4 linked regions of the Homo sapiens genome follow. The protein of the gene in region 1 purifies or fractionates together with the protein of each later gene. This does not show direct contact. Each region holds a gene or a part of one and is shown on either strand. Other genes may lie near its edges.

Region 1 (7,035 bases):
TGGTGAAATCCTGTCTCTACTAAAAAATACAAAAATTAGCCAGGTGTGGTGGTGCATGCCTGTAGTCCCAACTACTTGGGAGACTGAGGCAGGAGAATGGCTTGAACCTGGGAGGCGGAGGTTGCAGTGAGCCGAGATCGCACCACTGCACTCCAGCCTGGGCGACAGAGCGAGACTCTGTCTTGAAAAAAAAAAAAAAGAACTGGACTCCTAACTTTTCCCCAGGGTAGCTCAAAGCTGTTGTTGCTGGCTCTAGAGTCATAAAAAACTGCCTGGTCTCCCATGGACTGCTTAATTTCTACTAATCCATTAATGTAGGTGAAATATTGAAAATCAAGCCCTTGTTTACTTCAAATCATCACAGAACATTTATGCAAGTGGTTTCTAGGCGAATTTCAGCTTTTGGTTTGCATTCTTCCCTACAGAGGTTAGTTTGCTTAGGTAGCCACCAACGTGTTGTTGAATTGTAGTCTTTTACCTGAGAGTCTAAGAATATGATTAAGAAGACGAAATCATGTTTCATAACAGCTCTTATTTCATTTGTTCATCAAATTACATCATGTAATTTGGATTGACTTTGGAAAATCTACACATATTGGAGAGGAGCTAAGGTAACGTCTAGAAATAATTAAGTTATGTCAAATAAGGTATTGTCTAACTGTACACACATCATTCTAGTGAGGATTATGGGCAAGATCTTGTATAATTTAGCCAGTACTACCAGAAGTGGTCAGGAGAGGGAGCAAGAGGAGTTTTTAGTGATGGTTTTCTTTTTGCTTTCATGAACTCAAAATCAAGACATGAGTGAAAGCCAGGATGAAGTTCCTGATGAAGTTGAGAACCAGTTTATATTGCGTCTGCCTCTGGTAAGAACTTGTATCTCAGAACAAATATCTTCATAATTATAGTTTAATTATAATTATAGTTCTACTTGGATTCTGACATTTCTATTTCAGGTAGGCTATAAAAACTCAGAACATTTGTTTCCCAGGAATCATGTTCTGTTAAGCAGTCCTATCATAGCGTGTACTTTTTTGGCAGCATTTTTTCCTCCTGTACAATACCACCTATCATGCAGGTTGATTTCCTGGCAAAACAGCTGTGACAATGATGGACCCATTCACTTACCACCAATACTAACAGCCTGTTCCCTGGACAGCCAAGATACGGCTCCTCTGAAATCCTTTCTGTCACCTCAAAAGGGGCAGTGAGAAGGGCCAGCATTATTCACCACCATGCAAGACTTTTAAAGCTCATCTCAACAAGTATTTGGCTCTCTTCCCCCACACTGATACCTGTATTCAAGCAATTACTTAGTCTAGGCAGCTATATTAAGGATGGGGTTCAGAAACCTATTTCCCTAATTAGGGTTACTTAATATACCAAGCAAACTGCAACTAGGTAAGCCTTTCTTTAGCAACTACAACAGAAGGGTAGCAGTGAGAGGCAGGATTGTAGAGCTAGGAGAAAGCATTAACTGTAGCTACTAAGAGACAATTATGAGTTTAGAGTCAGCTTCATCCTAACTTGACTTATACAGTGCACAGTATCTCATGGTACATGGTCTTGTTAGTAACATTTGGGAGGTGTAAAGTTTTATTTAAGGGAGGGCTTTCTTTGATATATCTATTCTGTTAGCTGCCAAGTAGATGTTTAGTTCTTCTGATTTTTCAATTTACCTCCTTTTTAGGAACATGCTTGTACTGTCAGGAACCTAGCACGTTCTCAAAGTGTCAAGATGAAGGATAAACTAAAAATTGACTTATTGCGTAAGTAGTTAATATCCATTCACTATACATTGAACAATAATTTATTAAGGGATTGCTATGTGCCATACACTGTACTTGGTACTAAGGATGTGAAAAATGATAGAATATGGTCTCTGACTTGATGGACTCATGCTTTAGAGAGGCTTAAGTCCTCTTCTTTTAAGAGGAAAGGAAGTAGGAATATTGCACCTTGAGTTGAGTGATTATCATAGTGTGTTTAAGGAAACTTGGGGGTCAACTGTGGGGTTTTTATACTGCTGGTAGCCTCCCATATATAAACTTTATGATTTCTGAACATCCAAGGGAATGACAAATGGATATGCCATTCTTTGTTTATAAAGGTGACATGTATTTCTTTCTTTCTTTCTTTCTTTCTTTCTTTTTTTTTTTTTTTGAGATGGAGTCTCGCTCTGTCGCCCAGGCTGGAGTGCAGTGGCGCAATCTTGGTTCACTGCAACCTCTACCTCCTGGGTTCAAGTGATTCTTCTGCCTCAGCCTCCCAAGTAGCTGGGATTACAGGCACATGCCACCATGCCCGGCTAAGTTTTGTATTTTTAGTAGAGACGTGGTTTCACCATGTTGGTCAGGCTAGTCTCAAACTCCTGACCTTGTGATCCGCCTGCCTTGGCCTCCCAAAGTGCTGGGATTACAGGCGTGAGCCACCGTGCCTGGCCAGTGACATATATTTTTCTTTTAAATAATATTTGTTATATTGGCAAATTGTACATCCAATAAAGTGGTTAATATCCAAATATATAAGGAACTCAAACAACTCAATAGCAAGAAAACAAATAACCTGATTTTAAAATGGGCAAAGGATCTGAACAGATATTTCTCAAAAGAAGACATACAAGTAGCCAAAAGGTTCATGAAAAAATGCTCAGCATCACTAATCATTAGGGGAATGCAAATTAAAACAACAGCGAGATATCACCTCATACCTGTTAGAATGGCTTTTATTAAAAAAAAAAAAAGAACAATAACAACTGTTAATGAGGATGAGGAGAAAAGGGAAACTTTGTACCCTATTGGTGGTAATGTAAATTAATACAGCCTTTTTTTTTTTTTTTTTTTTTTGAGATGGAGTCTTGCTGTGTCACCCAGGCTGGAGTGCAGTGGCGCGATCTTGGCTCACTGGAACCTCCACCTCCTGGGTTCAAGCAATTCTCCTGCCTCAGCCTTCCGAGTAGCTGGGACTACAGGCATGCGCCACCACACCTGGCTAATTTTTTTGTATTTTTGGTAGAGATGGGGTTTCACCATGTTGACCAGGCTGGTCTTGAACTCCTGACCTCGAGTGATCCACCCACCTCAGCCTCCCAAAGTGCTGGGATTACAGGCGTGAGCTACTGTGCCTGGCCTACAGCCATTATTTTTTTTAAATGGTATGGAGGTTCCTCAGAAAACTAAAAATAGAACAACCATGTGATCCAGCAACCCCACTTCTGTGAATATATTCACAGAAGGAATTGATATCAACATGTTGAAGGCATATCTCTCTGCACTCCCATATTCATTGTAGCATTATTCACAATAGCCAAGATATGGAATCAACCTAAGTGTAAATGTGATACGTATACACAATGCTATACTACTCAGCCTTTTAAAAAGAACAAAATTCTGTCATTTGGGACACCATGGATGAATCTAGAGGCCATTTGCACCAAGAGCATGTGTAAATAAATAAGTAAATAAGTAAATAAATAAATAAATGTTTCCACACAAGTTTATCTGCCTAAAAAACACACAACCAAAAATAAATAAATTTTGCTAGTTTTTTTTTTTAATACAGAGAAGCATATAAAGGAGAAAACAAAAAGTGGCTCATAATCTCACCAGTTAGTTAACACTTACTGACATTTTTTAAAAAAGATAATATAAGTTCATAGTTAGAAAATTCAAATAAAACAGGCTGGGTGTGATGGCTCATGCCTGTAATCCCAGCTCTTTGGGAGGCTGAGGCGGGCGGATCACTTGAGGTCAGGAGTTCCAGACCAGCCTGGCCAACATGGCGAAACCCCGTCTCTACTAAAAATGCAAAAATTAGCCGGGCATGGTGGTGCACACCTGTAATCCTAGCTATTTGGGAGGCTGAGGCATGATAATTGCTTGAACCCAGGGGGCGGAGATTGCAGTGAGCAGAGATTATGCCACTGCACTCCAGCCTGGGTGACAGAGTGAGACTCCTTCTCAAAGAAAAATAAAAAAATCAAATGAAAAAGAAAAGTTCGAAAGGAGAAATAAAACTCTTCTTCCTTATGGTGCCCCAACCTCAATACCACAGATAACTGATACTGTTTCTTGTTACTTCCTTATTGACAAAACTCTTATGCATAATACTAGAATTGAAGCAATCTCTCTATTTTTAGAGTTAATTCACACAAAATGATAAACATTGTTTTGTATCTTTCTTTTTTCACATAATACTAGAAGATTATACCTGAATCCTCTTGTGTCAAAAGACATTTATGTTTGGGACATCTGAGCAGCAATATTCAGAGTTTAGTATATGGCTGTTGTATAGAATTTTATCTTTATGAAGCTAATTAGAGATTTAACTTGAGATTTATTAGCACCATTCTAGGGTCAGTCAACCCTTCCCTCACCCAGCCCTTTGAAAACACACATGTACAATGACACGATTGAATGCTTCTAAAAAAAAAAAAAAAGGAATTGGTTTTAATGAATGGAATTTGCTTTTCAGGATGAGAATGAAACATTTATTACTTCACCTATATTTAGTTCACATCCATTAACAAGAAACTTAGCTACTTTTGCACAAGTGACGTAAACTAGGAAAAAAGAGCTCCATATACTTTCCATTTCTTTTCTTTAGGAAGCTATTAATTGTGTACACAATTCTAGCATTATGAGAGATAGTAGGTTTCTTGGAAAGACTAATCTGTCCCACATAAGTCTTCATTATTCAAACCTTAGGAAGTTTAAGAGTTCACTGGGAAGATATCAACTTTAATCTTTACTTCTCTTCAGCTGATGGGCGCCATGCAGTTGTTGAAGTAGAAGATGTCCCACTAGCTGCTAAGCTGGTTGACTTGCCTTGTGTTATTGAAAGCCTGAGAACGCTTGATAAAAAAACCTTTTATAAAACAGCAGACATTTCTCAGGTATGGACTAGTTTTCTTTACTAGCCTCACATCCTTCAAGGAATTCTTTTCTCTTCCTATTTTTCTTTCTTTCAGTACTCCTTTCCACTTGGTGAATGGCTGCTTGGCATTTCTAATTTCCAGATTGACTGCACAGGAATGAAATGTCATGTTCTCGTTTGGTGTTTGATCCTTAGCTTTCAGTATTGTATTTTGACCAAATAGCCTATAGAGAGTCCCATTTGCCACTTATAGTGACTTTTCATTAATTGAAACATATGAGCTGCTGGGATCTTCTGAACTTTGTATTAAAACAGTATGTTGTTAACTCTGGAGGTTTAAATTGGTTCTTATTCATCATCTCTGCTGTTGATTTCTTATTTCCTCTCTAAATCAAAATGCTGAGATAGGCCAGACACAATGGCTCATGCCTATAATCCCTACACTTTGGGAGGCTGAGGTGGGAGGATCACCTGAGCCCAGGAGTTTGAGACCAACCTGGGCAACATAGTGAGACCTCATCTCTACAAAAACAAGATTAGCCAGGTGTGGTGGCACACACCTGTAGTCCCAGCTATTCTAGAGATTGAGGTGGGAGGATCACTTGAGCCCAGGAGGTCGAGGGTGCAGTGAGCCATGATCACGTACCACTGCACTCCAGCCTGTATGACAGAGCAAGACTTTGTCTAAAAACAAAACAAAAAACCTAAGCTAAGTTCCAAGATCTGTTTCCAATATATTCCCTCTGTAGTGGTAAACACTCTCGTGGAAAAAAAAAAACAAAACAAAGCACCTTCAGAGTTCATATGTAGTGCTGCTGGTGGCTGGTGGTGGGGAGGAGAGGGAGAGAGAGAGACTGCAAAAATGAGAGAATATAAATGTACATTACAAAATACTTGGTTTTCTGGAAATGGCAAGTATCAGTCTCTTCTGTGCATTTCTAGTGGTAAGAATGATTATGATTGCTAACCCAAAATTCGTGGTCATAGTCAACTTCTTTGTCTTTGTTAAATGTAGATGCTTGTGTGCACTGCTGATGGTGATATCCACCTTTCTCCAGAAGAACCAGCTGCCTCTACTGATCCTAATATAGTCAGGAAAAAAGAAAGGGGGAGAGAAGAAAAATGTGTCTGGAAGCATGGCAGTAAGTCACCAGCCCCTTGCTCATTCCTGCTGACTAAAATTTATTTGCTGAATCCTAATTCCTTGTGAAACAGGGACGTCTTACCACACTTAGGTGTTTGGTTCATTAGGTTCTCAGATACTCTTTAAGAGGAGTCACGTCAGCTGGGCGCGGTGGCTCACGCTTGTAATCCCAGCACTTTGGGAGGCCGAGGCGGGTGGATCACCTGAGGTCAGGAGTTCGAGACCAGCTTGGCCAACATGGTGAAACTCTGTCTTTACTAAAAATACAAAAATTAGTTGGGTGTGGTGGCGGGCACCTGTAATCCCAGCTACTCGGGAGGCTGAGGCAGGAGAATCGCTTGAACCTAGGAGGAGGTGGTTGCAGTAAGCTGAGCTCGCACCACTGCACTCCAGCCTGGGCAACAGAGTGGGACTCGATCTCAAAAAAAAAAAAAAAAAAGGAGTGATGTCATGACCCTTTGGTTTATAGCATGATCTTTGTCTTTATCAAATTCAGCTATGTGACTACCATCAGTCATATAACGTTTCACTGTGTTGTATTTATTTTAGTTACGCCACCACTTAAGAATGTCAGAAAGAAAAGGTTCCGGAAAACACAAAAAAAGGTTAGTTACATGCTATTTGTGTGTCTGCCGGGCCGATTAGAAGAGGATCATGGGCCAGAAGAAAAGAGAAAAAGTCAGTTGGGAATTAATTTTTAATTCATTTATATGTTCAATAAACATTTATTGAATGTGAACTAAATGCCAGGCACTGTATGCTAGCAGTAGGGAATATAGCAGTGAATAAAAAGACCTGATCCTTGAGGTTATAGGCTAGTCATTTGGGGTCTGGAAGAATCATACATTTGAAACTTCTGTTAATGCTTTCAGTTTTCTATTGCAAGATCTAGTTTTAAAGTGAACCCATCCAGAACCTGAAAATTGGGAATTGTGGTTATATTCCTAATGTTATTTCAGGCTTGTAGAATCTTGGGCAAACTACAGGAGTATTGTGGCTTGGCTTCTTCTTTTGTT
Region 2 (7,300 bases), on another chromosome or scaffold:
CAATTAATCAACCAATCAATCAATTTGTGAAGGGATTAAAAAGTAAGGCTAGGACCGAGCATGATGCCTCATGCCTGTAATCATAGCACTCGCTTTGGGAGGCCGATGCTGGTGGATTGCTTGAGGCCAGGAGTTCGAGACCAGCCTAGCCAACATGGCAAAACCCAGTCTCTACTAAAAGTAGCTGGGTGCGGTGCCATACGCCTGTAATCCCAGTTACTGAGGAGGATGAGACTTGAGAATCACTAGAACCCGGAAGGCAGTGGTTGCAGTGAGCCAAGATCGCGCCACTGCACTCCAGCCTGGGTGACAGAGCAAGACTCTTGTCTCAAAAACAAAAATAAAAAAAGTAAGGCTGGGCCCGGTGGCTCACAAACACTTGTAATCCCAGCATTTTGGGCGTGGGCAACATGCCGAAACCCTGTCTCTACAAAAAACACAAAAGCTAGCCAGCCATACTGGCACACACCTGTAGTCCCAGCTACTCCAGAGGCTGAGGTGGGAGGATGGCTTCAGCTCAGGAGGTGGAAGCTACACTGAGCCATGATGGCACCACTGCACTTCAGCCTGGGTGAAAGGCGAGCCCCTGCCTCAAAAAAAAGTAATGAAATTATTAATTATTGGCCGGGCACTGTGGTTCACACCTGTAAGCCCAGCACTTTGAGAGGCCAAGGTGGGTGGATCCCTTGAGATCAGCCTGGGCAATGTGGCAAAACCCAGTCTCTACCAAAAAATTAGCCAGGCATGGTGGCATGCATCTATGGTCCCAGCTACCCAGGAGGCTGAGGTAGGAGAATCGCTTGAGCCTGGAGGGCAGAGGTTGCAGTGAGCAGAGATCACACCATTCACACCACTGCACTCCAACCTGGGTGACAGAGTGAGATGCCATCTCACCAAAAAACAAAAAAGAAAAAAAGAAAGAAATTATTAATTACACACTTACTTGAACATAATTGATAAAGTCTTCCTTGAAAAGGGTTCTTCTCTGGATTTTGTACTCTAGATCGGAAGCCTTCTTAATGATAGCCCTGAGGAGAAAGCCATTTAAACTTCACTTGAAAACTGCAAAAATTAAACGTTTAAGTTTATTTTGAATATATTTAAAACATGTTTTTCAAAATACGAAATTCCTAGAGTTATCTTTCATAAGAAAGTATTATCGGCCGGACACAGTGGCTCATGCCTGGAATCCCAGCACTTTGGGAGGCTGAGGCGGGTAGATCAAGAGGTCAAGAGACTGAGACCACCCTGGTCAACATGGTAAAACTGCATCTCTACTAAAAATACAAAAATTAGCTGGGCGTGGTGGTGCGTGCCTGTAGTCCCAGCTACTCGGGAGACTGAGGCAGGAAAATTGCTTGAACCTGGAAGGCGGAGGTTGCAGTAAGCCGAGATCGCGCCACTGCCCTCTGGCCTGGCGACAGAGCAAGACTCCATCTCAAAAAAAAAAAGTATTCTCTTACACAATTACTTTTGTGTTCTTAAGGGTTCATTTTTAAACTTTCAGGAAAATCATCTTAATCAACTCCCAAAACCAATGACATTCCCACCAGCAAAGCAAATACAATTAAGAACTTTATACCATTTATGTATGGTGTTTTTTTTGTTTGTTTTTTTCTCGCTCTGTCGCCCAGGCTGGAGTGCAGTGGCATGATCTTGGCTCACTACAACCTCGGCCTCCCGAGTTCAAGCGATTCTCCTGCCTCAGACTCCCGAGTAGCTGGGACTACAGGCGCTCACCACCACGCTCAGCTAATTTTTGTATTTTTAGTAGAGACGGGGTTTCACCATATTGGCCAGGCTGGTCTCGAACTCCTGACCTCGTGATCCACCCACCTCGGCCTCCCAAAGTGCTGGGATTACAGGCGTGAGCCACAGCGCCTGGCTGGTATTAATAAAGACTTCTTTTACTCCAAGTTCAGGTCACTTAAATTTTAATAATAAATTTCTTTCCGAAATTCCTCTTATTTCTGAGTTCTCAACATGTAAATTTTTTTAAAAATCTAAATTGCGTCTGCCTTAAAAGACTTATTACTACGAAGGACTTACGGGAGAAGATTCAGAGTCCTTAGCTAAGGAATGAACATATGACAAATATATATTAGGAGAATTTAATGCAAGATGTGCAAGACAGGTGTCTTTAGTAATGGTAACATTAACCTTAACTGAGCACTTTCTAAGCGTCCACACTGCTTTGTTTTGTGTTTCATTAACGAATGCTTACTTTGAAGCTCTGAGTCACATTACTACATTCAGACGTTGCAAAACAAAGCAACAGTCACAGAAACCATTAAAAACTATTAAACATAATTTTAACACGCTACTGAATGTCTACCATGTGCCAGGCGCTGTAGTTAGGCTCTGGAGTAGCATATGAAACTGATTTCAATGGTCCCCACCTTCAAGTCTAGTTAGGAATTTATCCACTCCCCCTGGGCTCTCACAGCACTCTGTTCCCATCCCTACAGCAGTACAAGGTACTACAATCAACTTACAGTACACTGTTATCAAAATATTTAATTTGTCTGTCTCCCCCACCACACTCTGCCCAATTAGCTCCTAATGAGCAGGAATCCTGGGTTTATCACCTTTACAGCCCTAAGACCCGGCTCCATGAAGGGCTGTCAAAACGTCTGATGGGTAAGTAGACGGACGGATTACCTTGCAACGAATGAAAAATTAATTCTGGACATCACCGAAAACGAGAAATGGGCTTCCACCACGTTAGGAAAAGTAAACACAGGTCGAGCGTCCCCACATCTAGCCCCTGCCACACACTCCCAACCTCCCCTCAGGCCGCCTCAGCTCTTCCCTCTCCCCAACCCTCTCTCACTTAATCTCCGCATGACTGAACAGTCCAATGCGCTCCAGCTGTTCCAATTCCGGGAGCCGATCTTCTATGCGTTCCTGAATTATCTCTGCCATGAGGTCCGAGGTCTACAACCCCGCGGGTAGCTTCTCAACAGCGAACACGAGCAGGAAGCTCCCGGTTTCAGGTTCGGAGACCCAGCCCTACCACCGACGCGTCCGGACGTAACGTGCTCCCTAGGTCCCGCCTTTTCCGCTTCCGCCACCTCCTACTTAGGGGAAGGCCCTTCGGCTTCTACAGCCACCGTCCCCTCCCTGTGGCCGATTGTGGGATTGCAGCGAGAACCCGCCCTGGTCTTGGGCAGGACGACTCTAGCGGACAGGAGTTGAGGGGCGGGGCTAGACGGGAGGGAGGGGTTAAGTGCGCGCGCCGCTAGACTTGGACAGCCATCAGGAAAAGCGCCTCCAGGTGTAGAGAGGTGGGCTGCTCAAGCCTGAAAGGGACACGAGATGCATTTTCTTCAGAATATTGTCTCCCATCCCACGTCCTGACTTCCCAACACCAAGAACAACAACAAAAAAAAAAGCAAAGGAGGAGGATATTGTACAATTAAACATTTTTGAAAGCCGGTCGCGGTGGCTCATGCCTGTAATCCCAGCAGTTTAGGAGGCCGAGGCGGGCAGATCACCTGAAGTCAGGAGTTCGAGACCATCCTGGCTAACATGATGAAACCCCGTTTCTACTAAAAATGCAAAAAAATTAACTGGGCGTGCTGGCACGCGCCTGTAATCCCAGCTACTCGGGAGGCTGAGGCAGGAGAATCGCTTGAACCTGGGAGGCCGAGATCGCGCCATTGCACTCCAGCTTGGGCAACAAGAGTGAAACTCCGTCTCTAAATAAATAAATAAATAAAATAGAATTGTTTATTATTTAAATCAATATCCTGTCTTTGTAAGCAATAGCTTTCAAAATATATGTCCCTAGGTGAATATCAGACACTATAAATTCTTTTTAGAAAAGGAGATTTTTGTATTGAAAAGTTTGAGAATTACCAAAATAAATCACTAAGGTATAGACACCCTCCTTAAACCATTGCCCAAGCAACTTAGCATTTCTAAGAGAAACACCAGGCAACACAGCTTGGAGGCAATATTGCTGGTATAGTTAGTAAACCTCAAATGATAACTACATGGTTCAGTTCTTTTTTAGTTCTGGATATAAAAAAGCCAAAGCAGCAGTTCTTGCTAAATCTGCTTATTTCAACATTCACATTAGCACCTGGATCCTGTGTGTGATTTATGAAAGGAGAATGGGCTCAGCAAAACCATGTTCCACCTCTGTGCCTTGCATTTCTTTCTTTCCTTTCACATTTTACCCACTCATCTCAGAACTGAGACGAGGGTTGGCTTGTGCTACACCATTTCTTGAATCCTTCAGCTGTAAGACATGTCAGAAGTGGAAGGAAATCACGAATGTAAGACAAAGATAGAATTTATTTGTAAAAGTAAAATCTCTGGGGCTGTGTTAACAGTAAGAGTGGAGATGACACTAGATAGTAAACTCCATATGGGCAGGGAATTTTTTCCTTTTTGACTGGCTAGATACTCTACAGCTTATAGCAGTGCCTACCATATAATAAGTACTCAGTTAATAAATGCATGACACTAAGAAAAGGTACTTGCTAAATTTCTTTAGGTACAAGGAAGTCAGCAAGTTATGACAGACTGTAATCATTTCAAAGTAAATTTGATAGAGACCTTCATAAATTAACCATGATTTTTATTTTATTTTATTTTATTTATTTATTTAGAGACAGAGTCTCGCTCTGTCACCAGGCTGGAGTGCAGTGGCGCGATCTCGGCTCACCACAACCTCGACTCCCCTGGTTCAAAGGATTCTCCTGCCTCAGCCGCCCGAGTAGCTGGGACTACAGGCACGTGCCACCACACCCAATTAATTTTTGTGTTTTTCGTACATACAGGTTTTCATCATGTTGGCCAGGATGGTCTCAATCTCCTGACCTCATGATCCACCCGCCTCAGCATCCCAAAGTGCTGGGACTCCAGGCGTGAGCCAACGCGCCCGCCCAATTTTTAAATCAAACTAACTATAAATACGCTCCTCCTTTATATTGTTTTGTTTTGTTTTGTTGTTCTTTTTAAGACCGAGCCTCGCTGGCCAGGCACTGTGGCTCACACCTGTCATCACAGCACTTTGGGAGGCCGAGGCCACGGATAACCTGAGGTCAGGAATTCAAGACCAGCGTGGCCAACATGGAGAAACCCCGTCTCCACTAAAAATACAAAAAAATTAGCTGGGCCTGGTGGCCTCTCTCTGTTGCCTAATGGGGAGTGCAGTGGTGCGCTCTCGGCTCACTGCAACCTCCACCTCCTGGGTTCAAGCGATCCCCCGAGTAGCTGGGATGACAGGCGTGAGCCACCATGCCCGGCCTAATTACGTTTTTGTTTTGTTTTGAGACAGGGTCTTACTATATTACCCAGGCTGGAGTGCAGTGGTGTGACCACAGCTCACTGCAGCCTCAACCTCCTGAGCTCCAGCAATGCTCCCACCCCCGCCTCCCAAGTAGCTGGGACTACATGTGTGCCCCACCGCACCTGGCTAATTTTCCTTTTTTCTTTTTTGTAGAGACAGGGGTCTCACTATGTTGCCGAGGATGGTGTTTTTGTTTTTGTAAATAGAGACAGGGTCTCACTGTATTGTCACCATGGTCTTGAACTCCTGGCCTCAAGTGATCATCTTGTTTCCCCTTCTCAAAATTCTGGGATTACAGGCATAAGCCAGCACGCCCAGCGATCCTCCCTTATTTTGAAATTTAGCTTTTTTTTTTTTGAGATGGAGTTTTGCTCTTGTTGCCCAGGCTGGAGTGTAGTGGCGTGATCTTGGCTCACTGCAACCTCAGCCTCCCAGATTCTAGTGATTCTCCTGCCTCAGCCTCCCGAGTAGCTGGGATTACAGGCGCCCACCACCACGACCAGCTAATTATTGTCTTTTTAGTAGAGACGGAGTTTCACTATGTTGGCTAAGCTGGTCTCGAACTCCTAACCTCAGGTGATCCGCCCACCTCGGCCTCCCAAAGTGCTGGGATTACAGGCATGAGCCACCACGCCTGGCCAAAATTTAGCGTTTATGTATATATTCTTGTTGTTGTTGTTGTTGTTGTTGTTGAGACGGAGTGTCAGTTTGTTGCCCAGGCTGGAGGGCAGTGGCATGATCTCGGCTCACTGCAACCCCCGCCTTCCCGTTTAAACGATTCTCCTGCCTCAGCCACCTGAGTAGCTGGGACTACAGGCGCACGCCACCACGCCCAGCTAATTTTTGTATTTTTGGTAGAGACGGGGTTTCACCATGTTGGCCAGGCTGGTCTGGAACTCCTGACCTTGTGATCGATCCACCCGCCTCCACCTCCCAAAGTGCTGGGATGTGAGCCACCCCGCCCTGCCTAGCTTTTATATTTACCTTCAAGAATTATTATGATGGGCCAGGCGCAGTGGCTCACATCTGTAATCCCAGCACTTTGGGAGGCCGAGGTGGGTGGATCACAAGGTCAGGAGTTCGAGACCAGCCTGGCCAACATGGTGAAACCTCCGTCTCTACCAAAAATACAAAAATTAGCCGGGCATGGTGGTGCGTGCCTGTAGTCCCAGCTACTCGGGAGGCTGAGGCAGGAGAATCGCTTGAACCCGGGAGATGGAGGTTGCAGTGAGCCAAGATCACGCCACTGCACTCCAGCCTGGGTGACAGACCGACACTCTGTCCCAAAAAAGAAAGAATTATTATGATGTTTTGGAGGCCAAGGCAGGTGGATCACCTGAGGTCAGGAGTTCACAACCAGCATGGCCAACATGGTGAAATACCCCCCCACTAAAAATACAAAAATTAGCTAGACATGGTGGCGGGAATCCCAGCTACTCTGGAGGCTGAGGCAGGAAAATTGCTAGAACCTGGGTGGCGGAAGTTGTAGTGAGCCATGATCACACCACTACACTCCAGCCTGGGAGACAGAGCGAGACTCCGTCTCAAAAAAAAAAAAAAATACTTGGGAGGCTAAAGCACAAGAATCGCTTGAACCCGGGAGGCAGAGACTGCAGTGAGTCGAGATCGTGCCACTACACTCCAGCCTGGGCAACAGAATGAGAATCTGTCTCAAAAAAAAAAAGAATTATTATGACAGAAATGACAAAGCCTTCTTTTCACTTCTGCATCTCATAATAATAGCTGTCATTGGCCCGGCGCAGTGGCTCACGCCTGTAATCCCAGCACTTTGGGAGGCCAAGGTTGGCAGATCACAATGTCAGAAGTTCAAGACCAGCATGGCCAGCATGGTGAAACCCCATGACTCTGTCTCAAAAAAAAAAAAAAAAGCTGTCATTATGTAGGGCTTATTGTGTGCCCAGCTACTATGTGCACTGTTCTAAGTCCTTTATGTTTTTTTGTTTTTTTTTTTGTGAGCCGAAGTTTCGCTCTTGTTGC
Region 3 (7,035 bases), on another chromosome or scaffold:
CTGGGCGTGGTAGCAGGCACCTGTAGTCCCAGCTACTTGGGAGGCTGAGGCAGGAGAATGGCGTGAACCTGGGTGGCGGAGCTTGCGGTGAGCTGAGATTGCACCACTGCAATCTTGACAATCCACTGCAATCCAGCCTGGGCGACAGAGCGAGACTCCGTCTCCAAAAAAAAAAGAAAAAATTAGCCAGGCGTGGTGGTGGTGGTAGATACCTATAATCCCAGCTACTCAGGAAGCTGAGGCAGTAGAATCATTTGAACCCGGGAGGCAGAAGTTGCAGTGGGCCAAGATTGCACCATTGCACTCCAGCGCGAAACTCTGTCTCACACGCACACACACGCACACACACACACACACACACTCCAGGAGGAAAGAAAATAAAGGACAAAAAGTGGGAGAAACAGATGAAACAGAATCAACAAGCTACTGACAAGTGTGGAAGCTTGATGAGGCATATACAGGGGTTCATATATTTTGCTCTCTAATTTTGTATTTGAAAATTTCCAAAATAAAAGTTTTACTAAGTTCCCAGGTGTGCTTAGGCCAACACAAGGGCTAAGCCTGACTTATTTGTCCACATTGCTGTTAACTTTTGAACACAAATTAAGTTCAAAGCTTACAGTTCTATTTATTTACAAAGTTTTTATTATGAATTTTTATTGAGATTTTCATAAACATTTTTAATCTGCATGTTTACTACTTTTGGCCTCTAAGAAGTCCCATAAAGTTATAAAAAATAGAAATTTATAAATACACATTGAGAATTTTGCATTTTTATACAGGGTCAATGTTTCAAGTTGTCTAACCCTTTCCCTGTCTCCCCTCAGAACAAAATTATAAGAGTATAGCCTCTGAGGCCAGGCGCGGTGGCTCATGCCTGTAATCCCACCCACACTGGGAGGCCGAGGTGGGTGGATCATCTGAGGTCAGGTGTTCGAGACCACCCTGGCCAACCTGGTGAAACCCCGTCTCTACCAAAAATACAAAAAAAATTAGCCGAGAATTGTGGTAGGTGCCTGTAATCCCAGCTACTCAGGAGGCTGAGGCAGGAGAATCCCTTGAACCCAGGAGGTGGAGGTTGCAGTGAGCCGAGATCACGCCATTGCACTCCAGCCTGGGCGATAAGAGTGAGATGCCGTCTCAAAAAAAAAAAAAAAAGAAAAGAAAAAAAAAGAGTATAGCCTCTGAAATCTCAACAGCAGAAATAGCAGCCCTTTTCCAAATCCCACCTCTAACTCAGCACATCTGCATTCAACAGGTGCTTACACTGGATAACAACAACAAATGGAAGCTGCAGAAACACTGACTGGGACAACACCTCCCAAGAGCAGTGAGAACAGCTGGGATTGGCCACGGCTTGAATGTGGGGCTGTGTTCATAAACTTATCAGGCCAAGAATCGCTAAGAACTGAATCACAAACCCTGAGAAGGCCACATAGGCCAGTCTAACTGCTTCGATCTAGGAGAGTTTCACGTTACTACAAACCTGAAAAACTCCTATTTAGTCCAGTTGGGGAATCCAATTTTTTTTTTTTTACTAGCGTCCCCTCTTCCGTTCCTGACAAGCAGCTCTTTCCTTACACAGTACAGTGAGGCCAGAAGAACATGGAGCCTGCTGTCAAGTCCCCAAGTTTTTCAAGTTTCCAAATTCACCAAGGGAATGGAAGACTAAGAGATGGGCTGGGCACCGTGGCTCACGCCTGTAATCTCAACACTTTGGAAGGCCAAGGCGGGTGGATCACTTGAGGCCAGGAGTTCAAGACCAGCCTGGGCAACATAGCAAAATCCCGTGTCTACTAAAAAAAAAAAAAAAAAATTAGCCAGATGTGGTGGCGGGCATCTGTAATCCCAGCTACTCTGAGAATTGCTTGAACCCGGGGAGTGGAGGTTGCAGTGAGCCGAGGTAGTGCCACTATACTCCAGCTGGGGCGACACAGCGAGACCCTGTCTCAAAATAAAAGGAGTTGAACTGTGGAAGCCAAAGGGGAATACATGAAGCTAAATATGGACGTTAGGATTCTAATTTGGGAAACAAGCTTATTCATCCAGTGTTCACTTCCACGTGTTGTTACATTTTTCTTCCTTGGATTTAGTTTTAAAAACTCTTCCTTAGGAGACCAGAAAAGCTATCAGCATGCCCAGCATCTTCCTTAAAAACTTGTTTTCTGGTTTGTAGGGTATGTTAAGAATGAAGTTGTTCTCCCCACAGGATACAAATTGGTTGGACAGACTCAGACCTGCTTCTTGCAGAACGCCTCAGCTTGGCTCACTCCTGCCCATCCACCAGCCTTCCAGCTGACCAGCCGTTTCTCAGCTTTCAGAATACAAGATGAGGCCCAGCCCTCAACACCCCACCCTCACCCCACCAAATCCTTTCCTATTGTTTACTTTATCCTTTTTTTATTTTTTTGAAATGGAGTCTCGCTCTGTCACCCAGGCTGGAGTGCAGTGGCACGATCTCGGCTCACTGCAACCTCCGCCTCCCAGGTTCAAGTGATTCTCCTGCCTCAGCCTCCCGAGTAGCTGGGATTACAGGCATGAGTAACCACACCCGGCTAATTTTTGTATTTTTAGTAGAGACGGGGTTTCACTATGTTGGCCAGGCTGGTCTCGAACTCCTGACCTCAAGTGATCCACCTGCCTTCGCCTCCCGAAGTGCTGGGATTACAGGCGTGAGCCACTGCGCGTAGCCCCTCTTTCCTACTGTTTAAACCCCATGGCTCCTCTGTCAAGTCCCAGCATAATAGAGCCGACGCTCTAGGCTCTTGTCAGAGAAAACCTCTTCTTCCAGAAGGGGTAAGACTTGGCAGTTCCCAAGCACACATTCCTCACAGGGGCAATAAATGGTAAATCTCTCAGGAGGAGAGTGCTGCCCCGCTTCAGGGAGCTTTCGTCAAATGCCGACGGGAGGACAGGTGCAGCCCCGACATGTCGTTCTTCTTCACAGTGATGCATCTGCTCAAGACTCCTGACTCCTGCCCACCCCAAACAAAGCTGTGCTGTGTGGCCTCCTGTTTCCGACACGTTGAGGGAGTACAAAGAACTTTTCATCAGCTCAACGGAGCACTTGGGAGGCCAGATGAGGAGAGAAATAAGAATGAAGTTCTGGGATGAGAAAGTGGTGCCACAAATTGTGAGTCAATAAAAGGGATCCAGATATCCTGAAATACACGCTGGACAAACAGTCTTCCTTGTAATAAGCACAGCAGCAAAGAGCCCTTTCCTTCCTGTCACTTTCCCTGGTCTCTTGAGTTTCAAAGGAATCAAATCCTGTGATAATGAACGAAGTCACTGGCTGCTGCTATGCCCCACCACATAGCCTGATTGATTAAGAAAGTCTCTGGTGGGGTGCGGTGGCTCACGCCTGTAATCTCAGCACTTTGGGAGGCCGAGGCGGGTTATCACTTGAGGTCAGGAGTTCAAGACCAGCCTGGCCAACATGGCGAAACCTTATCTCTATTAAAAATACAAAAATTAGCTGGGCGTGGTGGCTCACACCTGTAATCGCAACTCTTTGGGAGGCCAATGCGGGTGGATCACTTGAGGTCAGGAGTTCAAGACCAGCCTGGCCAACATGGCGAAACCCTATCTCTACTCAAAATACAAAAATTAGCCAGCATGGTGGCGCTTGCCTCTAGTCCCAGCTACTCGGGAGGCCAAGGCAGGAGAATCACTTGGACCCAGGGTTGCTGAGACTGCAGTGAGCTGAGATCACACCACTGCATTCCAGCCTGGGTGATAGAGTAAGACTCCATCTCAAAATAAAAAAAAAAATTCTCATTATTCTGTTCATATCTTCCTCAACCCAAACATCCAGTGAAAATAGGTCATCTTAATAAGACGGTTTGCCATGAAAATCATGTCCGATCACACCCTGCAGCCTCGGCTTGGCCATGAGGAGGTCACCCTCTTCTTCCCTTGAGTGGCTTTAACTCCCCGGGAGGGTGGAATCTGCGCCCCTGTACAAGCCAGGTTTCCTTCTCAGCTCAGGAGAGGGACCTAGAAAGAAGAGGAACCATGGAGCCTCCTGGTGTGGGCCCTGTCTGCTCTCCTTCTAGGGGAAAACTGCTCCAGTGCTGTGAGGGTTGGTCCCTAGACTGCAGGACACTCAACCACTAAGGAACAAGAGCTATGTACGGGAGCCAAGTAAGGACAGGAAAAGGGAGACTATTCCCTCTCACCAGAGTGGCTTTCCCCAAGGCTCCGCCCCACTGAGGAGACTCTTCCAAGAAGCAGAGAAGACCACCTCGGTGGGACAGTGAAGGCTCTCTGGACCCCAGCCTCCAACTCACTTCTTCCTGCGGATCTTGGGCTTCTTCACCGGCCGCAGATAAGGGTTATCGATGATGTTCTCCTCCCCATTCCGGCTACCCGACAAGGAGGGGTTCTGCTGCAGGACAGAGGTGTTCTCCTTCTCGGCTCCAGAATCCTCCTTTGAGCAAAAGCCAAAATAAAGCACAACATCAACAGCATAAGGAAAGAGATCATGCCTATAATTGGAATGACCATTAGCATCCTCTAATTGAGAAATTAGAACCTGGGAAGCACCTTCTTTCCAACATTCCTATCTCTGCCCCGATGAAGCGAGGACCAGGCAGGGGCTGGCTATGAAGGGAAGGCAAGACTAACAGCCTTGACCCAAGAGAGCACACAACAGAGTCCAGAGTTTTGAACCTCTGGAGAAGGCAGGGACAGGGGTTAGAAAGAACAGACACCTGGGAGGGACAGGAATCAAATTCAGATGCCTCAGGGAGGATGCCCGGCCAGGTGGGGAGATGAAGAAGAAAAGTGATCCTGGATGCCCTGCATGACTGGGAGATACAGGATCAGAACACATCATCTGCATAGCGCATCTCCTGGCCAAGCTAGATAGACTAAGTCAGAACAGATTTCTCCCTCAAATCCTCACATTTCTGGTACTTGCAACATGGTACCAACAATCACATCCCAGCACAGGCTAGAAACTTCTTGAGCCTTGAGGGTTCCACTAAGGGACGCAGAGCCAGCAGGTACCAGCACATGCACATCATTGGTAATGCCTATCTGCAACCTATGAGGCAGGGTTTGTTTGTTTGCCTGTTTGAGATGGAGTCTCCCTGTGTCACCCAGGCTGGAGTGCAGTGGCGTGATCTCGGCTCACTGCAGCCTCCGTCTCCGGGGTTCAAGCAATTCTCCTGCTTCAGCCTCCCAAGTAGCTGGGATTTCAGGCATGTGCCATGACGCCCGGCTAATTTTTGTATTTTTAGTAGAGACGGGGTTTTACCAGTTGGCCAGGCTAGTCTCGAACTCCGAGGCAGGGTTTTTTACTGTTCATTTTTTTTTTTTGAGATGGAGTCTTCTTCTGTTACCCAGGCTGGAGTGCAGTGGTGTGATCTCAGCTCACTGCAAGCTCCGCCTCTGGGTTCAAGAGATTCTCCTGCCTCAGCCTCCCAAGTAGCTGGGAGTACAGGTGCCTGCCACCACATCCCGCTAAGTTTTTTATTTTTAGTAGAGACGGGGTTTCACCATGTTAGCCAGGATGGTCTCGATCTCCTGACCTCATGATCTGCCAGCCTTGGCTTCCCAAAGTGCTGGGATTACAGGCGTGAGCCACCGCGCCCGGCCGCTTTACTGTTCATTTTTTGAGAAAAATGTGTTTTTTCAGAAAAGTTTGTAAGTTCACATGTAATCAGTATGATCAAAATTCTTAAAAAGTCACAGTTGTGTATAGACACAGAAAAAAAGGTAATATGCTGACATTTTAAAAACTGTTCTGGAAGTATGAGCAGTCAGTTATCCTGTCTTTATTCACAGCCTCCTTTATTTTCCACGTTTGGTCGGGCTGCGCCCCCTGGTGATGGGCCAAGGGGAAGAAGTTCTTCCACGGGGAAGAAGTCATTGAGATTCCTGTTCTGCAACTTGAGGCTAAAGAGGCCCTCACTGACCTCAAGCAGGAGAGGCTGCTGTCAAAACAGACAGAGGATGCCATGACCGGATGGCATGAAATAAATAGCAGGTTCCCCTGACAGGACAGCTGGCCTAGGGCATGGACACCAGTCTCAGGTTTAATGAGCCAGAAGAAACCAGATCACATCTAGGTTCCCCTGCGTGCCCTCTCCCTGTCCTATCAATTGTTCTCTTCAAAGACACAGTTCCATTGGCCCAGTATCAGGGCCTGTGTGTTTTCCCTCTCCAGCACCCAATCCAGTGGGACCACAAGGTGACCCAGAGCCACTGGGGCCTTCCAGAGACTCTTGAAAGCAAGTGCTGCAGGACCAACCTAGTTCAGGCCAGACCAGGTGCCGGAAAAAAGGTCTGCCCACAACCAGACCTCCCTTGGGTATCTGGCATCCAACCTTTCTGAAGTTCCTAATGGTACAAATGAGTAGTATCTCCTCGCTCCGTCCATCCTATCATTTCTCTACAGTAGACAGCCTATCTTCAAAGTTACTGGAAGCTCACTTCAACCGTGCCTTCAATGTTTTCTGAGATACACATGGAGGTAACACTGTTAGAGGTGCTGAAAACGCCAGCCTCAAGACACTGCTGGAGGGTCAAGAGGCTCCCTCCATTCGGCCCACCGTGGCTCACAAGAGCAGGACGGCAGGCTTCCTTCTCCCAAGCAGGCCTCATAGAAATGTCCCCTTCAGGGACAGGCAGCACTGAGATGGTTAGGGGTGGGGAAGTCAGCCAGTTAAAAAAAAAAAAAAAAAAGTAGGCCAGGCGTGGTGGCTCACGCCTGTAATCTAGCACTTTGGGAGGCCAAGGCAGGTGGATCACCTGAGGTGAAGAGTTCGAGATCAGCCTGGCCAACATGGTGAAACCCTGCCTCTACTAAAAATACAAAAAAATCAGCCGGGCATGGTGGTAGGCGCCTATAATCCCAGCTACTTGGGAGGCTGAGGCAAGACAGTCGCTTGAACCCGGGAGTTGGAGGTTGCAGTGAGCCGAGATTGTGCCACTGCACTCCAGCCTAGACGACAGAGTGGGACTCTGTCTCAAAAAAACAAAAAAGTAAAGTGTCAAACTGACCCAGAGATTTGTAAAAAAAAGTGG
Region 4 (6,627 bases), on another chromosome or scaffold:
TTTCTCTTTGCAGTTTCTTGAACTTCCTTTGGTTGGTGTCACAGCCAGCCACCCAGTAGAGACTGAGACCACCAGTTCATTTCACACAGGCCACTGAACAGTCATAAGATGGTGACAACTTTTGGTCTCTAGTGACCTGGACTGGATCCGACTCACTGACCTAGAGGTGAAAGGCTCTGTATTCCATTACTAATCCCTCGAGCTCTCCAGCCCCCTGAAAATGATTCTTTGGTTTTATTATTGCAAAGACCATTTATAAAATCATGAACTGGATTTAGGAAAGCAACCATGAAATAGCAAGGGACAACAAACTGATTGAAATTCCTTAAATGTAGCATGGGCTGAAGTCTCTCAGACAGTAAGATTGGGGGGAAAGTTATATATAGGCACCTCCATTCTGATTTCAGTAGCGTGACCTGCTCACTTAAACGTGGCAACTTCAGATCATGGACCACGCCTCAAGGAACTAAATCCTAAATAAAGAAAATGGAAAAGCAAACTATGAAATAGCCAATAATCTTTATTTTGCACTTCCCCCACCCCTCACCCCTCTCCAAAAACCACTAACGCGCATTTTTGTGCATGTGAAAATATTGTATAAAGTATTTAGAATGATCTCAAATTAATCAAACAAAAAAACACATATCTCAACATAGATGCTTTGTTTCTTAGCGGGGATAGAAAAATTCTGGCCTCTTGAACAACGAGGGCAATGACACCCTGTGCTCCGAAGAGGTCGACTCCATTTCCACTGATTTGCAACTTAACATTCATGGCAGAAAACCGCATTTCTCTAACCACATAATGTTTTAAAATATGACTAATTCATACACTAATATCAATTTACTTGGCATTTAAAAAAATCACATTTTCTAGTAATATATTTGTATTAGGTTCAAAGCCCATATTCTAGCATCCAACAGATCCAGCACATGGGCCTACACTGGGATTATTTCAAAATCAAGTAAAAGTCCGTATTTATCCCAAAGTTGCTAAAATATGCTAATAAAGTTAAATTTGATGTTTTTTTAACATTAAAAATAAAATATTTGGTTTACCTCTCAGACATCTATAACATATAATAAATAGTGGGCAGTATAATAATATAATAAAGTTTTGTGATACCCTGAAATTTGATGAGTTTTCTTAAAAAAATTCATAATATACTTCATTTCAGCCTTAAAGCACAATATTAATGAACAGATTTGTAGAAATAAAACAATATAAAGACAAAATGCTACAGTATATGTGGGTTTTTTGTTGTTTTTTTTTTTTACTTTCATGGAAACTACATGTCCTTTTAGTAAAAGTCTGTCAAAGAAATTTACAAAAACAAAATAGACAACAAACAAAACAACTTCAAGTCATAAACTCTAAATTTAAATTGCCTTGTTTTCCTTCCAACTGCTCGGGCCCTTTCCCCACCATGTTTCCGGGCACTGCGCAGGCTGAGCTCAAGGGAAATTTCTTTGAACGATGGCTTTTTCTCTAGCCTTGTTTCTGTCCAGCGTCATTACAGACCTGGCTGAAATCACAGTGGATTTCAGAGAAAGCCAGAATTAAACACGATAAAAATTTAAAAAATAACTACTTCATAAATATTTATTATTTACATTAGGGGCAATCTTTTAGTCTGAAGAGTTTTTATACAAGTTGATGAAATGTACAAGCAGTGAGAAGAGACTCCAGCAGTTTAAAGAAGGGCAAAATTAGAATGCAACGAAGATATAAAATACATTAAACAAAAATAATTTGCACAAAAGCAAACAGGACATGATAGAAACCTTTTTCTTAAAAAATATAAGGTATTTCACAAAAGCCTGAACATTTTACATGTTAGTACTAAAAACGGGGGAAGGAGGGAAGCTTCATATATTCTTATCACAAAAATATTTACCGGTACTCCAACTGGAGTTTTCTTTTATGTTATTCTGATTATCTTACTATAGAGGGAAAGGGGCTGAAAACTGTATACAGACTCTATCATCCTTAAATTACAGTTGAGGCAGTTTGTACATTATCTTCTCATCTAATACCTCAATGAAAAGGCCCTGGAGAGAATAAAGGAAATCAAAAGGGAAGATGTACGCTCTTTATTAATAATACTTGTCACTGGTATTAGAGAAGTGGAGGAGGGGCAGCCCCCAGGCCACGCCTCTGCTTGAGTTTCCTTCTGTCGCACTGCCACGGAGCCACAGGCCAAGGCGGCTCGGGAGTGAACAATCCAGGTGCGCGGTGTGTTCCAGCCTCAGTCCTCCTGGGTTCTTTATCCACAGGCATCTGGGGGTGGATGTGACGGCAGACTTGCACCAGCTCCCTTCCAGAGGCGCCAGGGAAGAAGCCCGGGCTGACCCCGCTTGGTCCAGCCCCTCGGGAGTCGTCAGTGGGCTCGATGCTTCCTCTTCTTGTGCTTTTTGTCCTTCTTCTTGTTCGCACACTTGGGGCAGAACCACTGCATCTCTTCTGGGGGTGCAGTCATGATTCCAACACAGGGCCTGCACGTGAAAACAAGCTCAGATAAGCAACTTTTATACAGACATCTATTCTTCTCCCTTCCATGTTTTAAAGTAATTTTTTAGAGTCTATGACATGTTTACCCGAAATCAAAGTCAAGCAGCACTAACTTGTGTGTAGCACTATTGTTGGGCATGCGGACTATGAGATCACAGATGCTCCCTTTACAGGCCCCCTGCAGAGACTCATCCGTTCATTCATCCTCTCAGCCAGGAATAGAAGTCTTCCGAGCCACGGCTTTGTCTTTATCTCACAGATATCGTCTATCATAACTGAACAGGTTGCTATCTTTTTTGTATCTGACATTTTAAAGATAACACGAGATTATCTGCATAAATTCTGGTTGAGCTTTTCAGTTTTTAGGAACCGCTGAAGAGGTCTAAAAAACAGATAAGCAGTCTTTAGTCCTGCAGTTTGTACCACCTTTACAAAGGCGCTGCCTCTTCGTGGTCCTGGCCAGTGCTACAGCTCCTACAGAACATTACTGGAAAGGAAGGCCAGGGAAGCCCCTGGATCTCCTTTTAGTATTATTATTTTTAATAAGAAGGATAGATAAGCTAAGCAGAATATTCAGAATTTAGGGTGAATAACAATAGTCTAAGCACTCTTGGGTTTTGCAGTTAATTGCACTTCACAGGCTCAGTGATTTGACTCCATGTACTGTCCCTAGGACAGCCCTGGGTCAGTCCAAAGGCAGGAATCTACTCAGTGGATGCTTCATCTCAGGAGCGGCTGATGCTGCCTAATGAGTGTGGCCGGCAGGGCGCCCTGGGCACTCACCAGTGGTACCAGTCATCGCAGTCGTCACACCCAATCATGGGACTCCCATCGTCAGGCTTGTTACACCCAGGGCAGATCCAGATCTGATTGCCCCACTCATCTCGGATCTGATGTTTGCAAAGCGGAAGCGGCAAAAATGGAGGGAATGGGAAAAAAAACAAAAAGAGGCCAGATCAGAATGATTACTTTATACTGTTAACCGAATAAACAGGCATATTAAACTAAAAAATATAGTAGATCAGCACTTCATTAATGCCATGATCAGCGTCATCACTGTTTTAGAATCAAGAAACAGAAAAACGCTAAGTGTTCAATGATAAGGCATTTCTAACGAATATTCTAAGCTTTCTTTTGTAAGTCATAAAAAGCATTTTATAATCATCTCTGTGAACAATATGACCTGTAACCCCTTTCATAAAAAAAAAAACTATAACTATGTAAATTCTTAATGATTTGGGTCTTTATAAGGGTGGTAACAACTGATTTTTTGAAAGTTATAGAGCTCCACTTTATATGTGGTTTTCTCAATCGCATTCATAGGCATGGAATTAATATAGACAGCCAAATGTGCATGCACCACCTTATTACTTATTAGCCAAGCCCTTCTCCTGAAGGAGCTGATAAGATCAAGGATATAAAAGAGTTGTTACTAAGTAACTTTCCATTCCCTTTATGACATTTTTAGTAAAGTACAATCAACTAAAGGGCAAATGAAATAAGGGGATAGGGAGGCCACAGAGCTACAAGGTTCAACATTATTTTGCTACAAATATTGTGTACTCTAGAGTTGACTTTATTTAACTTAGCAGTTCTAAAGAGGGAACATCCTATTCACCACTTCCTCAAACTTCACATGAACAGAGCCAACCTGGAAGAATTAATTCACTGATGGGCATTCAACACCAGCAATAAGAAAAAGGTAACTTCCAAAGTGTTTACAATAACAGAGCACATTATTGCATCCGGTTTATTTTGTAAGGGATAGTTCTTCCCAGACTTTCAAATACCACACTGACTAGACATGCTTTTAGAAAGGCTTTCTTTGTGTGTGACAGGTGCATTGGGGGTCCATATATGTTTCACTGTAGTGATGGGCTTCCTTTAAGGCAACTCTACAAAGGCAAACTACATTGACAGGAAAACTTCCTAAAGAAATCTGTGGGCAACTACATCTCTGACCCTCCGTAATTCCAGGAGAAAAAGTAACAAGGGGTGAGAACCAGCAGTCACCCGTACCTGCTGTCTAGAGGCCAAGGCTGGTGGAACATCCTATGCCCTGAAGCTCCCACGTGTGGCCAGTCCTGCTGCTGGCTGACCTTGCTTGAAGTCAGAAGGCCGTGACTCTGTGTGCCGCACAAGAACTTCACCACGGCATCCACAGCAACTAATACCAAATACCTCATAGCTTACTAAATTCTTCTAAACATCTCATTTCATTTAATCCCTGTAAAACAACCTCTGGGTAGCTTATGAATGGGGAAACCGGAGCTAAGGGAATTTAAGTGGCATTTCCAACATCACACCATTAGGCAGTGACAAAATTTGCCTTTTTGCTCTCTAGCCTTTGTATGTCATCTAAATCATAAATTTTGTCCTCTAACCACAAAGCGTCTCTCTTCATGAGGTAGAAAGCTTTTTTTAAATTTTCATTTTTATTTTAAAGACAGGGTTTCACTCTGTCACCCAGGCTGGAGTGCAGTGGTGTGATCATGGCTCACTGTAGCCTTGACCTCGGTAGGCTCAGGTGATCTTCCCAGCTCAGCCTCCTGAGTAGTTGAGACTACAGGCACATGTCACCCTGCCCAGCCAATTTTTGTATTTTCTGCAGAGATGGGGTCTCACTATGTTGCCCAGACTAGTCTCAACTCCTGGGCTCATGTGATACAGCTGCCTTGGCCTCCCAAAGTGCTGGGATTATAGGCGTGAGACACCATGCACAGCCAGTAAGCTTTCCATCTACATTGTCTATTCCAGTTGGACTCATCTCCAGGAAGTGAGTTAGCTCAAAGATCTACTGGAAAACCAGAACTTTTAGAGCTAGAACATGCCACAGAGATTACCAAGTTTAACACAAACTCCTTAATTACAGATGAAGACACGAAGGTCAAGGAGGTTAAGTACAAAATCTTTCCTGATCAACCCATTTGGGGGTGATGTTGCCTCTAATTAAACACCTACAATGATTGGTCCCCGAATGGACCAATTTGATGATCACACTTTTAGAAGTTCCTTCCAAAACTCCTTTAAGGAAATTTAATAATAGGCCAGGCGTGGTTGCTCATGCCTGTAATCCCAGCACTTTGGGAGGCCAAGGTGGAAGGACTGCTTGAGCCCAGGAGTTTGAGACCAGCCTGGGCAACACAGAGAGACATCATCTCCACAAAAACCAAAAACAAACAAACAAAAACAGCCAAGAAACAGCCAGTTGTGGTGGCAGACGCCTGTGGTCCCAGCTACTCGGGAGGCTGAGGTGAGGGGATCACTGGGGCCCAGGAGGTCGAGGCTGCAGTGAGTGGTATTGTGCCACTGCATTCCAGTATGGACAAGAAGAGTGAGACTACCTCAAAAGAAAAAAAGAAAACATAAAAAAAAGAAATGTAATATTGTACAGTTTATAACAACAAATACCATGAGTCCTACCCAGCCACTTTCCAATCATATTAGTACCTAGCTAGTTACAAGGTCAGGGCCACCAGTAGGCTAACACATCACAGTCTGCAGAGTTGGTAGTCACAGCAATGGCAATGGCTCCACACACCTTAAATATTTCGTTGTGTGTTTGTGTGTTTAATTCTATAGTATCCAAAGAACGTAATCTGTATAAACACTTTACTGCCAGAGTGTATTCAGGGAGTAAGAAACTAAAAAACAGTCCCAGAACAATGTGGACTCAGTGGACATGGTGGGATTTACAATTTTTTTTTTTCTTGAGATGGAGTTTCGCTCTTGTCCCTCAGGCTAGAGAGCAGTGGTACGATCTTGGCTCACTGCAAGCTCTGCCTCCCGTTCAAGCAATTCTTGTGCCTGAGCCTCCCGAGTAGCTGGGATTACAGGCACGTGCCACCATGCCCAGCTAATTTTGTTTGTATTTTTAGTAGAGATGGGGTTTCACCATGTTGGCCAGGCTGGTCTCGAACTCCTGACCTCAAGTGATCCATCTGCCTCAGCCTCCCAAAGTGCTGGGATTACAGGCGTAAGCCACTGCGTCCAGCTGGTTTTACAATTTGAAATCATGCTTGGATACTCAGGAGTTCTGTGGTCTCAAAGTTCATTTCCATTTAATATGCAAGCCCTGGCATATTCTGGATCATAGCCAATAAAATATAATTAGTG

What was found.
Region 2: the proteins of TAF7L (region 1) and UTP6 purify together in Homo sapiens (affinity purification with mass spectrometry; 2 studies listed by BioGRID and IntAct, with this or other methods). This does not show direct contact.
Region 3: the proteins of TAF7L (region 1) and TAF8 purify together in Homo sapiens (affinity purification with mass spectrometry; 2 studies listed by BioGRID and IntAct, with this or other methods). This does not show direct contact.
Region 4: the proteins of TAF7L (region 1) and TAF3 purify together in Homo sapiens (co-immunoprecipitation; 3 studies listed by BioGRID and IntAct, with this or other methods). This does not show direct contact.

Annotation. Positions count from the first base shown.
Region 1 is NC_000023.11:101,281,309-101,288,343, reverse strand, and holds part of TAF7L (transcription initiation factor TFIID subunit 7-like), read left to right. Parts: intron 1-798; coding exon of another isoform or gene 799-800; coding exon 801-866; intron 867-1,690; coding exon 1,691-1,769; intron 1,770-4,760; coding exon 4,761-4,894; intron 4,895-5,890; coding exon 5,891-6,017; intron 6,018-6,568; coding exon 6,569-6,624; intron 6,625-7,035. UniProt on the Homo sapiens protein: Probably functions as a spermatogenesis-specific component of the DNA-binding general transcription factor complex TFIID, a multimeric protein complex that plays a central role in mediating promoter responses to various activators and repressors.
Region 2 is NC_000017.11:31,898,703-31,906,002, forward strand, and holds the start of UTP6 (U3 small nucleolar RNA-associated protein 6 homolog), read right to left. Parts: upstream 3,007-7,300; 5' UTR 2,926-3,006; coding exon 2,834-2,925; intron 1,029-2,833; coding exon 944-1,028; intron 1-943. UniProt on the Homo sapiens protein: Part of the small subunit (SSU) processome, first precursor of the small eukaryotic ribosomal subunit.
Region 3 is NC_000006.12:42,074,497-42,081,531, reverse strand, and holds part of TAF8 (transcription initiation factor TFIID subunit 8), read right to left. Parts: intron 4,433-7,035; coding exon 4,293-4,432; intron 4,000-4,292; coding exon 3,987-3,999; 3' UTR 1,797-3,986; coding exon of another isoform or gene 1,757-1,796; 3' UTR 1-1,756. UniProt on the Homo sapiens protein: The TFIID basal transcription factor complex plays a major role in the initiation of RNA polymerase II (Pol II)-dependent transcription.
Region 4 is NC_000010.11:8,010,505-8,017,131, reverse strand, and holds the end of TAF3 (transcription initiation factor TFIID subunit 3), read right to left. Parts: intron 3,402-6,627; coding exon 3,295-3,401; intron 2,496-3,294; coding exon 2,381-2,495; 3' UTR 501-2,380; downstream 1-500. UniProt on the Homo sapiens protein: The TFIID basal transcription factor complex plays a major role in the initiation of RNA polymerase II (Pol II)-dependent transcription.